Regions from separate parts of the Homo sapiens genome. Here all the other regions are linked to region 2. The links come from fine-mapping of genetic effects on gene expression. A gene starts in region 2. Each other region holds a variant in brackets. All regions are shown on one strand. Distances are from middle to middle.

Region 1 (4,242 bases), 22 kb after region 2:
CTTGAGCTCAGAAGTTCAAGGCCAACATGGGCAGCATGGTGAAACCTCATTTCTACAAAAACTACAAAAATTAGCCAGGCATAGTGGCACATGTCTGTGGTGCCTGTCTGTAGTCACTGTTACTCAGGAGGCTAAAGTAGAAGGATCACTTCAGTCCAGGAGGTTGAGGCTGCAATGAACCAAGATCGCACCCCTGCACTCCAGCCTTGGCAACAGAATGAGACCCTGTCTCAAAAACAGCAAAAACAAAGACAAATGGAAAAGAGCTCCCAGTGGCCAAAGCAGGAACAATTTAAGAAACAAAATCAATAATATTGGATTATGAACCAAAGTATAAAATAAATATCTGTGAGTCTGTACCAATATAAATACATGATTGAATAGATAAAAGGAGAATTACAGATAAATCTCCCATGCAGAAGAATACCAAATAATTAATATGGCTACTGTGCCCTCAGGGAAGGGAACATTACTCCACACTCCTTCAGTGTAGGTTGTACTTAGTGACTTCCTTCCAAAGAGTACATATAGAAAAAGAGAAAAAAAAACTGCATGGAGAAATCTGACAAATACTACCTCAGCCAAGTGATCAAGTCATTGATATGTCATATTGATAGGTCATTTTGAGAGTATATACCCTAAAATACAAAAATTAGCCGGGGGTGGCAGTGGGCACCTGTAATGCCAGCTACTATGGAGGCTGAGGCAGGAGAATCACTTGAGCCTGGGAGGTGGAGGTAGCAGTGAGCCGAGAGAGATCAAGATCGCACCACTGCACTGCAGCCTGGGCAACAGAGAGACTCCGTCTCAAAAAAAAAAAAAAAAAAAAAAAAAAAAGGGGAGAGTATGTACCCTTGATATGATGTGATGAAAATGGGACTTTGGGACTTTGGTCGGGCATGGGGGCTCACACCTGTAATCCCAGCTCTTTGGGAGACTCAGGCTGGTGGATCACGAGGTCAGGAGTTCAAGACCAGCCTGGCCAATATGGTGAAACCCCGTGTCTACTAAAAATACATAAGTTAGCTGAGTGTGGTGGTGCATGCCTGTAGTCCCAGCTACTCGGGAGGTTGAGGCAGGAAGAATTGCTTGAACCTGGGAGGCAGAAGTTGCAGTGAGTCGAGATCACGCCACTGTACTCCACCCTGGGCGACAGAGCAAGACTCCATCTAAAAAAAAAGAAGAAGAAAATGGGACTTTACCTTGTGGTTCTACTCCTAAAAATCCACACCCTTAGTTCAACCATGAGAAAAACACCAAATAAATTCTATTAGATATACTACAAAACACTGAACTTGGCCGGGTGCAGTGGCTCACGCCTGTAATCCTAGCACTTTGGGAGGCCAAGGTGGGCAGATCACTTGAGGTCAGGAGTTCAAAACCAGCCTGGCCAACTGGTGAAACCCTGTCTCTACTAAAAATACAAAAAAATTAGCTGTGCATGGTGGTGGACGCCTGTAATCCCAGCTACTCAGAAGGCTGAGACAGGAGAATCACTTGAACCTGGGAGGTGGAGGTTGTAGTGAGCTGAGATCACGCCACTGCACTCCAGCCTGGGTGACAGAGCAAGACTCTGTCTCAAAAAAGAAAAAAAACAAAACACAACACAACAACAACAACAAAAACACTGAACTTAAAGTACCCCTTAAAATTGTCATGGTCGGCCAGGTGCAGTGGGGTCATACCTGTCATTCCAGCACTGTGGGAGGCTGAGGCAGGTGGATAGTTTGAGCTCAGAAGTTCAAGACCAGCGTGGGGAACATGGTGAAACCCCATCTCTACAAAAAATACAAAAAAATTAGCCAGTGTAGTGGTGCACACATGTAGTCCCAGCTACTCAAGAGGCTGAGGTGGGAGGATGGCTTGAGCCCGGGAGGTGGAGGTTGCAATGGGCCAAGATCAGTCCACTGTACACCAGGCTGGGTGACAGCCAGACCCTGTCTCAAAAAAAAAATTGTCACAGTCATTAAAATAAGGAAAGTCAGACAAACTGTCCCAGCTAAGAGCAGCTTAAGGGGACGTGACAAGTAAATGTAATATGGTATCCTGGATGGGCTCCTGCCACATGAGAAGGCTATTAGGTAAAAATCAAGAAAAGCTGAATAAAGTATGGACTTTAGTTAGTGATATTATATCCATATTTGTTCATTAATTTTAACAAGTATACCATACTAAGGTAAGATATTAATAATAGGGGAAACTGGATGTAAGGTATATGGAAATTTTCTGTACTATTTTGTCAATTTTTCTGCAAATCTTTTTTTTTTTTTTTTAGATGGAGTTTCGCTCTGTCCCCGAGCCTGGAGTGCAGTGGCGTGAGCTCGGCTCCCAGCTCACTGCAACCTCCACCTCCCGAGTATCTGGGATTACAGGCGCCCACCACCATGCCCGGCTAGTTTTTGTATTTTTAGTAAAAACGAGGTTTTACCATGTTGGCCTGGCTGGTCTCAAACTCCTGACCTCAAGTAATCTGCCGGCCTCAGCCTCCCAGAGTGCTGGGATTACAGGCATGAGTCACCAT[G/C]CTCGGCCAATTTTTCTGTAAATCTAAAACTGTTCTAAAAATAAAGTCGGTTTATTTATTTATTTATTTAGAGACAGAGTCTCACTCTGTCACCCAGGCTGGAGTGCAGTGGCACAATCTCTGCTCACTGCAACCTCCGCCTCCCAGATTCAAGCGATTCTCTTGCCTCAACCTCCCGAGTAGCTGGGACTACAGGCACGTGCCACCACACCCAGCTAATTAAGTCTGTTATTTTTAAAATTACATCTGTTTGTTTGGGTTTGATTTTTGAGACGGAGTCTTGCTCTGTCACCTAGGCTGGAGTGTAGTTGCACAATCATGGCTTACTGTAGCCTTCACCACCTGGGCTCAATCAATCCTCCTGCCTCAGCCTCCCAAGTAGCAGGGACTACAGGCATGCACCACCATGCCCAGCTAATTTTTATATTTTTTTTTTGTAGAGATGGGTCTCACTGTGTTGCCCAGGCTGGCTGGCTATTTTTTTCTGTTTTCTGTAGAGACAGGGGTCTCACTATGTTGCCCAGGCTGGTATCAAACTCCTGGACTCAAGCAATCCACTCACCTCAGCCTCCCAAAATGTTGGGATTACAGGCATGAGCCACCACACTTAGCCTAAAAGCTACATCTGTTTTAATATGAACTACCTAGTACCTGGCAAGAAGATGGGCTGAGGGGAGGTCCTGCAGACTGAAGCCTCAGAGCCTCAGAGCATCCACCTCTGTTAGTGCATCCAGTATTCCTGACATAGAAAGAGGAATATTATCCTATTTTTTTTTTCCAGACAGGGTCTCACTGTGTTGCCCAGGCTGGAGTGCAGTGGTGCGATCTCGGCTCACTGCAATCTCTGCCTCCTGGGTTCAAGCGATTCTTATGCTTCAGCCTCCTGAGCAGCTGGCATTACAGGCGCCTGCCACCATGCCCCCCTAATAATCCGGCGAGGGATACTATTCCTTTTTAAATGACTGGCAGTTAGGACTGTTTGTTTTGTTTGCAACAACCATGTAAAGGCAAAGCCACCCATGTGGTTTGGAAGGGCAGGAACTGGTCCTGTGCCAAGGTGTGCCTTCTCTCTCTGTGGTGGAGGGGGTGGTGGGGCCTGCAGGGAACTGGGCAAACTCAGGCCCTGCCAAAAGGGATGACAGATGCTCCCCTCCAGCTGACAATAGCCGTGGGACAGAGAGGACCCAGAACTGCCAGATCTTTCCATATTTCAAAAGAAATGATTAATCTAGCTTTTCATGTGAAGTCTCCTGATTTTTAAATGTTGCCAACTAATTCTAACTTTATTTAAACACTGCTCACTATATAAACAATATTCATCTAGCTCACTATACAATACACATCCAGGCAAGTGCTACCTAGATTGAGTTACTCAAGGGCGGGATAATCTGGCTTTATTCTTTCTGTGACCCTCAGGACCCTGCACAGCACCTGATGCGTGATTCCTACTCCAAAATATATATGGAATAGTGAACAAAATAATACAGTTAGGGAAATGAGACATAAATATATTGACAATTATTTATTTATTTATTTTGATATGGAGTTTCACTCTTGTCATCCAGGCTGCAGTGCAATGGCATGATCTCATTTCACTGCAACCTGCATCTCCCGTGTTCAAGTGATTATCCTGCCTCAGACTCCCGAGTAGCTGGGACTACAGGAACGTGCCACCATGTCCAGCTAATTTTTGTATTTTTGGTAGAGGCAGGGTTTCACCA
Region 2 (4,242 bases):
ACTTAAATTCTTACCATTTATAATGAGTCACTGTCTGAGTTTTATATAAATTCAGTAGTAGACCCCCCCCCATGTTTGGTGAGAACCCAATTTTAATTTGACAAGGTAATAATTTAGTCATCATACATATCTGCGTTAAGAGAAAACAGTGTTCCTGAAGGAGATGTATTTCATCTTCCACTGCAGCTCTAACACTAACAAGTCTTACTGTCTTTCTTGTTAAGTACAGCCTAAACAAAACAGGATACTGGGCAACTACCACGGACAACAAAATAAAAATCGATTCTCTGTTCCTTCAAGAATGTAAAGCTGAGATCCTGCAGGTCTGTAAGTGTACGTACACATACACACCAACAAAGATGGAATGTTTTGGATTCACTTATGTGCTAATCATCTAAAAATACTAACCAAAGGCCAAACCAAAAATCTAGACTTGAGTTCCTTTATGCCAACATCAGAAAAACTGTTAAAATGGTTCTATAACCACAAAGCATTCACTGTTGAAAGTTTGAAGTCTTCAGATGAATACCTGACACTAAGGACTTAATTATTTTATGTGATAAAAAATAATTTTGTGCTGGCTGGGGGCGGCAGGTCACGCCTGTAATTCCAGCACTCTGGGAAGCCAAGACGGGCAGATCACCTGAGGCCAGGAGTTCGAGACCAGCCTGACCAACATGGAGAAACCACGTTTCTACTAAAAATAGAAAATTAGCCGGGCGTGGTGGCGCATGCCTGTAATCCCAGCTACTCCGGAGGCTGGGGCAGGAGAATCAATTGAACCTGGGAGGCGGAGGTTGCGGTGAGCTGAGATCGCGCCACTGCACTCCAGCCTGGGCAACAAGGGCGAAACTCCGTCTCAAAATAATAATAATAATGATAATAATAATTTTGTGCCAAAAGACCACGTCTTTTACAAATACATAGTGAAATACTGATGAAATAACGTCAGCGATTTTCCAACATTAAGGAATGAGAAGTGTATAGATGAAATAAATTTGTTTAATAGTCACTGCTAAATCCAAGCGATGGGTACAGAGAAGTTCATTATATAATATCTCCTCCTGATTGCCTTTATCGTTTCCCACAATAAAATGTCTTTGCAATGGCATTATCTAAGCGTAAAGCACTACAGATTCCAAAATAAGTGTGCAGACGTCCTTGAAGTTAAATTTTAAGTGTTTCAAGTACACAATCTTGCTCAACCTTTAAACTCCAAAGACTGTCCTAACTAAAAAGGAAAGAATGATTGACGACTAAGTCTTTTCGGTCGTTCGGCTTTTGCCCTAGCCCAAAATCAGGTCGAATTTTGAGAGAAGTGCGCTGTGATTTAAAAAAAAAAAAAAAAAAAAAAAAGCAAAAAGCCTTTATACTTCACTCCCACCCTAATCTAGCGTCTTCCCGATCCCCAAAGGCTTTAAGGGCTTCCATTAAAGATGGAAAGCGGACGGGACGAACCTGACTAACCAGAAATCCTCACCTGGGGACAGCCGGGGCGCCACGGGCAGTGGGCGCGATGGACCCCTCGGACTAGACACTCAATGCAACTTTTCTCCTCCCAACCCGCGCCGCCCAGGAAAGGGAGGTCACTTTCGACGCCCCGGAAGCCTCTGCCACCGAATCCTTAAGGCAGTGCAAGGCCCCAGTGGCGGCCAGAGGCGGATGAAACCACGGGAAAGGACTCGGGGCTGAAATCAACACACTTGACTGGGTTTGGGGAGCTAAGTCAATCAGCAGTCGCCCGAAAAAGAACTCCGAAAAAGGAAAATAAAAGGGGAAAAAAAGAGTTCCTCAGGTCATTCCCCTGCCCAACTTCCTCAGCGGCCCGGTGGGCGAGGCAGTGAGACTTCCACCGCCCGCTCCCAGCCTCTGCCTCCCCCACCCTCCCGGCTCCCTCCCGGCCTAGGCGGCCGCCCGACACCTCACTTACCCTCGGAGCCTGGCGGGTGCTTTGGCCACGGGCCGCCTCCGCCTCTCCCGCTCCCTACGGCCCGCGGGCGGGCGCGGAACCCTCGCGCGGGAGAGCAGGGCCGGCAGGTGAGAGCCGAGAGAGGCGAGGGACTCTGCTTTCGGTAAATAGGAAGCCCGGTTGGGGGGGCAGGAGCGGCGGCCCCGCAACTTCCCTCCCCGCCTCGAGCGCCGCCGGCCGGGCCCAGGCCTAGCTCTCGCTGGCCGCCACTGCTGGAGCTGGTAACAGAGCCTGCTGTGTGCCCCCGCTGGGCCGCCGCCGCCTCCTGCGCCGCCGCTTCCGCCGGTGAATGGTCAGTGCTGGAGTTTGAACAGGGCCCTGAACCATCTCAACGCCATTTGCGCTCCCGGCCCCCACCTCCTTCCTCCAACAGCCGCTCGCTCCGTCACTCCGCTTCCCACAGTCCCCGCGCGGCCGCCCGACCCCGCAGCCAATCGCGCAGCCGCTTACTCAAACCGCCGCGCAGGCGCTGCGCCCCGCATGCTCCGGCGCCCGCCATTGGCCCGGCCGCGGAGCCCGACGGGAGTTGTAGTCCAGGTCCGCGAGGTCGCGGGCCGAGGACCAGGCGCGGGAGCGGGAGCGGGCGACTGGCCGGGCCCTCCCGGTCTCGGCAGCCACTTCTAGCTCCCGGCCCAGCCGGGAGACGCAGGTGCCACGGAGATGGGCAGCCGGGCGGGTGGCGCAGTGCAGGCAGCTGTATCAATCGCTTCCCCTCCAGGGACCCGCCGGTGCCTGGGGACCGCGGGCTGTGCAGCTGTGCCGGGCCTGCGGAGGCCGCCGCCCGGGAGCTGGGAGGCAGGGGGCGCGTGGTCAAGAGCCGCCCTCGACCTGGCCTGGTCGGTCCTGGCCCGGCGTAGGTGACGATGGCGGGGACCGCGAGGCGCCGGACACCCGAGGCCACGAGCAGCGTCGCCCCTCGCTTTTTCGCGCCCCTCCAGCCCTGCAGTCCTTCCTCTAAGTCCGTCTGCCCCTCACCGATTGAAAGTGGCCCCGAGAATATTGGATGGTATTGAGCAATTATCATTAACTTTGTTGGGTGTGGTAACGGTAATGTGGTTATGGTTTTTTGTTTTTTTTTTTTTAAGACCTACTGATGTGTTGACAGAGTGATCTGGTGTCAGGACTGTAAAATACGCCTATGAAAACTGGGGGAGAGGAATAAAACAAGCTGGCAGAACGTTTTTCATCGTTGAAGCTGCGTGATGCGAGCATATGTGCTCATCATACAGTCTCTTTACTTGTGTATCTGAAATTTTCCATAATAAAAAGTTTAAAGAAGTGAACCAGCGATTGCCTCTAGGGAGGACAGTGAGGTGGCGGATGACGGGAGGAAGGAGTCTTAATTTTTCGCTGTACGCCTTTTTGTGCTATCTTAGGTTTTTCCCATTCAATGTGTTACCTAATTCAGAAAATTGGTAAGTTTTTTTTAAGGCTACCATGGGAAAACAGCGTTCTAAAGAGTAGCGCAACCAGTTCCCCCTAAGAGAGGTGCATGATTCGTCGGACTCCGACAGCCTTGGTGTTTGTTAGGCGGTTAATGGAGACCCACCTGGGAAATTAGAAAACTACTAATTGCTTTCAGTGAGAAGCCCGCCCTTCTCCCACAAATGGATAATTTGCTTTTAATGCACCCAGAAGTTATCCAGCTCCCTCCGGTATAATCGGGGAAACTCCAAATAAAGGAAAAATAGTTCAGAGACCCTGCAGCTCTTCCCAAGAGGAATTTAAGGTGGATTTTAGTGTGGTTGGATTGTTTTGCCTACCTGACTGCAGAATTTATATTCTGACATTTACAATTTCCTAAATACTGAATCAGTACTTTTTCTTGTTTCAAAATAAATCAACTTCTTCTGTAGTTTATATGAAAAACAAGTCCATGTCTTCCACTGTGGGTGGGATGCACATGACTGTTTTATTTGGGTCAGTTTTGTCTCTTTTTTTAATTGGCAGTTTAGGAACTTGTTTTTATCATTTTGTTTAAAGATCTTCTGGCAGAGGTGCAGGCTGCACTTACTATAATTATTTAGATGACAAGGTGGTGGGTGGTAATTAAAGGGTAATTATCATCAGAGGCAAAAGGTAAGATCAAAAAACCAGAAGAGGTGAGGAAACAATTGCAAGATCTTCCTGTAGGAGGGTGTCGTGATCCTCCCAAGACCAAAGGATATGTCTATTATGCCTGGCCTCTCTAGTGCTGGACACTTGGCAGGGTCAGTGCCTGCATGAGGCTGAAGTGGAAGGGCTTATTGTTTAGACTGGTGCCTTTTGAGGGC
Region 3 (4,242 bases), 93 kb before region 2:
GCCCAGACTCGTCTCGAACTCCTGATCTCATGTGATTCACCAACCTCAGCCTCCCAAAGTGCTGGTATTACAGGCATGAGCCACCACATCTGGCCAGGTTTTTCTTTTTTGCTATATTATTCTAGGAATTTGCCCACTTCATTTAAGTCATAAATTCATTAGCATGCATTTATTCAGAGTAGTTAGTTAAAACTTTTTTAATCTCTAGTGTTTCTGTACTCATATATTGTCTTTTTAATATTTATTTATTTCATACAGGATAGCATGTATTGATTTTTTTTTCTTTTGAAATGGAGTTTCGCTCTTGTTGCCCAAGCTGGAGAGCAATGGGGCAATCTCGGCTCACTGCAACCTCTGCCTCCTGGGTTCAAGCAATTCTCCTGCCTCAGCCTCCCAAGTAGCTGGGATTACAGGCATGCACCACCACGCCTGGCTAATTTTTTGTAGTTTTAGTAGAAACAGGGTTTCACCATGTTAGCCAGGCTGGTCTCGAACTCCCAAGCTTGTGATCTGCCCGCCTCAGCCTCCCAAAGTGCTGGGATTACAGGCGTGAGCCACCACGCCTGGCCCACATGTATTGATTTTTATACTTACTTTTGTAATTTGTATTTTATTCCCTCCTTCTTGGTGAGTGTACTCAAAATTTAGACTTTTCAAAGAATCCATTTTTCACCAATTTTAAAAAATTTGCCATTATCTTCTTCCTTCTACTTATTAAGAGTTTATTCTATTGCTCTTACTCTGTCATTAAGATGAATAATATGTACTTTACAATTTTAGTCATTCTGTCTTTCAAATATAAGCATTTAAAGATAAAAATTTTGCTGTATCCCGTAACTTTTTTTTTTGTTTTTTGAAACGGAGTTTTGTTCTTGTTGCCCAAACTGAAGTGCAATGGCACGATCTTGGCTCACTGCAACCTCTGCCTCCGGGGTTCAAGCGATTCTCCTGCCTCAGCCTCCCAAGTAGCTGGGATTACAGGCATGTGCCACCACGCCCGGCTAATTTTGTATTTTTAGTAGAGACAGGGTTTCACCGTGTTGACCAGGCTGGTCTCGAACTCCTGACCTCAAGTGATCTGCCCGCCTCAGCCTCCCAAAGTGCTGGGATTACAGGCGTGAGCCACCGTGCCCTGCACCATGACTTTTGATATATTTTATTTTCATTGTCATCCAGTTCTAATTTATTTTTTAAATTAAAATTTTTATTTTTTTGAGACAGGGTCTCACTCTTTCACCTAGGCTGGAGTGCAGTGGCTCAATCAGGGCTCACTGCAATCTTCGACCCCTGGGTTCAAGTGATCCTCCCCGCTCAGCCTATCAAGTAGCTGGGATTACAGGCGCGTGCCACCACACTTGGCTAATTTTGTATTTTTCATAGAGATGGGGTTTTGCCATGTTCCCCGGGATGGTCTCGAACTCCTGGGCTGAGGTGATCCACCCGCCTCAGCCTCCTAAAAGTGCTGAGATTACAGGTGTGACCCACTGTCACCAGCCTAGTTCTAATTTAAAAAAAAAAAAAAAAAATTATGGCCAGGTGCGGTGGCTCACGCCAGTAATCCCAGCACTTTGGGAGGCTGAGGCGGGTGGATCATTTGAGGTCAGGAGTTTGAGACCAGCCTGGCCAACCTGTGAAACCCTGTCTCTACTAACAATACAAAAATTAACTGGGCATGATGGCATGCACCTGTAATCCCAGCTACTCGGGAGGGTGAGGCAGGAGAATCACTTGAACCCAGGAGTTGGAGGTTGCAGTGAGCCAAGATCATACCACCGCTCTCCAGCCTGGGTGACTGAGCAAGACTCCGTCTCAAAAAAAAAAAATAAAAATAAAAATAAATTATAATTGATTTAACCCATGAGTTATCAGGTTGTGTTTTTTACATTTCTAAGCATATAGAGGTTTTCATTTAACTGCTTATTACTGTCTTTTAAATAAATTGTTCTGAATGTTTTCACCTTAGATAACATTGCCTGTTCTACAATTTTGTATAAATTGATGCATATTATAGGTCTCAAACTCGTGGTCTCAAGCGATCCTCCCACCTTGGCCTCCCAAAGCACTGGGATTACAGGTGTGAGCCACTGCACATGGCTGTATTATATGTATTTTGAAAATTCAGCTTCTTCCACTGAGCGTTATGAATGTGAAATTTCTTCATGTTGTTGATTTAAAAAGTAATTCGTTCCTCTTTATTACTAAGTAGTATATTATTGCATAAATCTATCAATTTGTTTATTGTCTGCGGACGGACATTTGAGTTGTTTCCAGTGTTTGGCTATTTGTTGATAAAATGACTGTGAACATTTTCCACAAC[T/A]TTTTCTGTTGAATATTTTCATTTCTTCTGGATAAAGTGAAATTGTTAGGTTGAAGAACAGATAAATATATATATAATATATATTATATATATTTTATATATAAATATATAAAATATAATATATATTATATATAAATATATAAAATATAATATATATTATATATATAAAATATAAAATATATATATATATATATTTTAGCTGTGGCCCAGGCTGGAGTGCAGTGGTACAATCATGGCTTATTGTAGCTTCAACCTCCTGGGCTCAAGCAATCCTCCTGCCTCAGATGGGACTACAGGCATGTGCCACTATGCCCAGCTTTTATCTATCTATCTATCTATCAATCTATCTATCTATCTATCTATCTATCTATTCATTGGCAAAGATGAGGTCTCACCACATTACCCAGGCTGGTTTTGAACTCTTGCCCTCAAGTGATCCTCCTGCCACGGCCTCCCAAAGTGCTGGGATTGCAGGCATGAGCCAGTGCACTCAGCCCAGACAGGCATAACTTTATTCTCACAAGGAATTGACAAAACTCGTCCAAAGTGGTGTTATGATTTTACATTCCCAACAGCATTAAAAAAAAGTTCCAGTTGTTGATGTGCCACCATTTGGTGCTGTCATCTTTTGAACTGGCCATTCTACTGAATACACAATAGCATCTCATTGTAATTTATGGGTTTTTTTATCTTTTTTTTTTTTTTTTTTTTTTGAGATGGAGTCTCACTCTGTCTCCAGGCTGGAGTGCAGTGGCAAGATCTCTGCTCACTGCAACCTCTGCCTCCCGGGTTCAAGCAATTCTCCTGTCTCAGCCTCCCCAGTAGCTGGGATTACAGGTGCATGCCACCACACCCAGCTAATTTTTGTATTTTTAGTAGAAACGGGGTTTCACCATGTTGGCCGGGATGATCTCAATCTCCTGACCTCGTGATCCACCTGCCTCGGCCTCCCAAAGTTCTAGGATTACAGGCATGAGCCACCACACTTGGCCACTTTTTATTTTATTTATTTATTTATTTTTGAGATGGGAGTCTCCCTCTGTCACCCAGCCTGGAGTGCAATGGCACGATCTCGGCTCACTGCAACCTCTGCCTCCGGGGTTCCAGTGATTCTCCTGCCTCAGCTTCCTAAGTAGCTGGGATTACAGGCATCTGCCATCACGCCCGAAGAATTTTTGTATTTTTAGTAGAGATGGGGTTTCACCATGTTGGTCAGGCTGGTCCTTGAACTCCTGACCTCGTGATCCACCTGCCTCAGCCTCCCAAAGTGCTGGGATTACAGGCATGAGCCACCACGCCTGGCCAATTTTTATTTTATTTTTGAGACGAGGTCTGGCTCTATCTCCCAGGCTGGAGTACAGTGGCATGATCTCCACTCACTGCAGCCTCCATCTCCTGGGCTCAGGTGATCCTTCCACCTTAGCCTCCCAAGTAGCTGGGACTACAGGCACAGGCTGTCACGCTCAGCTAATTTTTTGTGTTTTAGTAGAGACGGGGTTTCATCATGTTGCCCAGGCTGGTCTCGAACACCTGAGCTCAGGCAATCTGCCTGCCTCAGCCTCCCAAAGTGCTGGGATTACAGGCCTGAGCCACCACGCCTGGCCTCGTTCTTTCTTTTTGTAGTAGCTTTATAGTTTTAGCTTTTACATTGAGATCTATGATCCATATGGAATTAATTTTTATGTTTAGCATAAGGTAAGGGTCAAGATTTTTTTTTTAAATATGGGTATTCACTTGTTTCATAACCATTTGTTAAAAATATTTTAATTTCTACATTAAATTGCTCTGGTGCCTCTGTCAAAAATCAGTTGACCGTGTATCTGTTGACCTATTTCTAGGCTCTGCCTTCATTGTATTGATCTTGTCCTCATGCGAATACATGGTCTTGACCATTGTGGTTTTATCGTGAAACTAGAAGGTCAATA

Which allele goes with the higher level. Alleles are on the strand shown, and positions count from the first base shown. SD is a standard deviation of normalised expression in the study named.
For the expression in fibroblasts of the gene that starts at base 2,513 in region 2, G is the high allele of the variant in region 1 and C is the other (small effect, 0.25 SD a copy in GTEx).
In carriers of allele A in region 3, the expression in unexposed skin of the gene that starts at base 2,513 in region 2 tends to be lower than with T alone (small effect, 0.24 SD a copy in GTEx).

Evidence for each region. PIP is the estimated chance that this variant, and not a neighbour inherited with it, causes the effect. A credible set is the group of variants that fine-mapping cannot tell apart.
Region 1: its variant is the best candidate, but not a certain one, in a credible set for the expression of WAPL-DT in fibroblasts (GTEx, PIP 0.90).
Region 3: its variant is the best candidate, but not a certain one, in a credible set for the expression of WAPL-DT in unexposed skin (GTEx, PIP 0.82).

Annotation. Positions count from the first base shown.
Region 1 is chr10:86,541,717-86,545,958 of GRCh38, forward strand. All of the region lies in intron 3 of LOC105378408 (a long non-coding RNA gene), which reads left to right. Among named protein-coding and RNA genes, the nearest start is that of WAPL-DT, 22 kb to the left of the region's middle. The variant G/C (reference allele first, on the strand shown) is at 2,522.
Region 2 is chr10:86,519,435-86,523,676 of GRCh38, forward strand. WAPL-DT (WAPL divergent transcript) reads left to right here and starts at 2,513. Exons shown (of 2, transcript NR_186498.1): 1 at 2,513-2,975; 2 at 3,075-4,242. It overlaps WAPL (WAPL cohesin release factor), which reads right to left and starts at 2,358. Exons shown (of 19, transcript NM_015045.5): 1 at 1,931-2,358. RefSeq lists silencers at 1,852-2,271, 2,412-2,971.
Region 3 is chr10:86,426,642-86,430,883 of GRCh38, forward strand. No RefSeq gene overlaps it. Among named protein-coding and RNA genes, the nearest start is that of GRID1, 62 kb to the left of the region's middle. The variant T/A (reference allele first, on the strand shown) is at 2,318.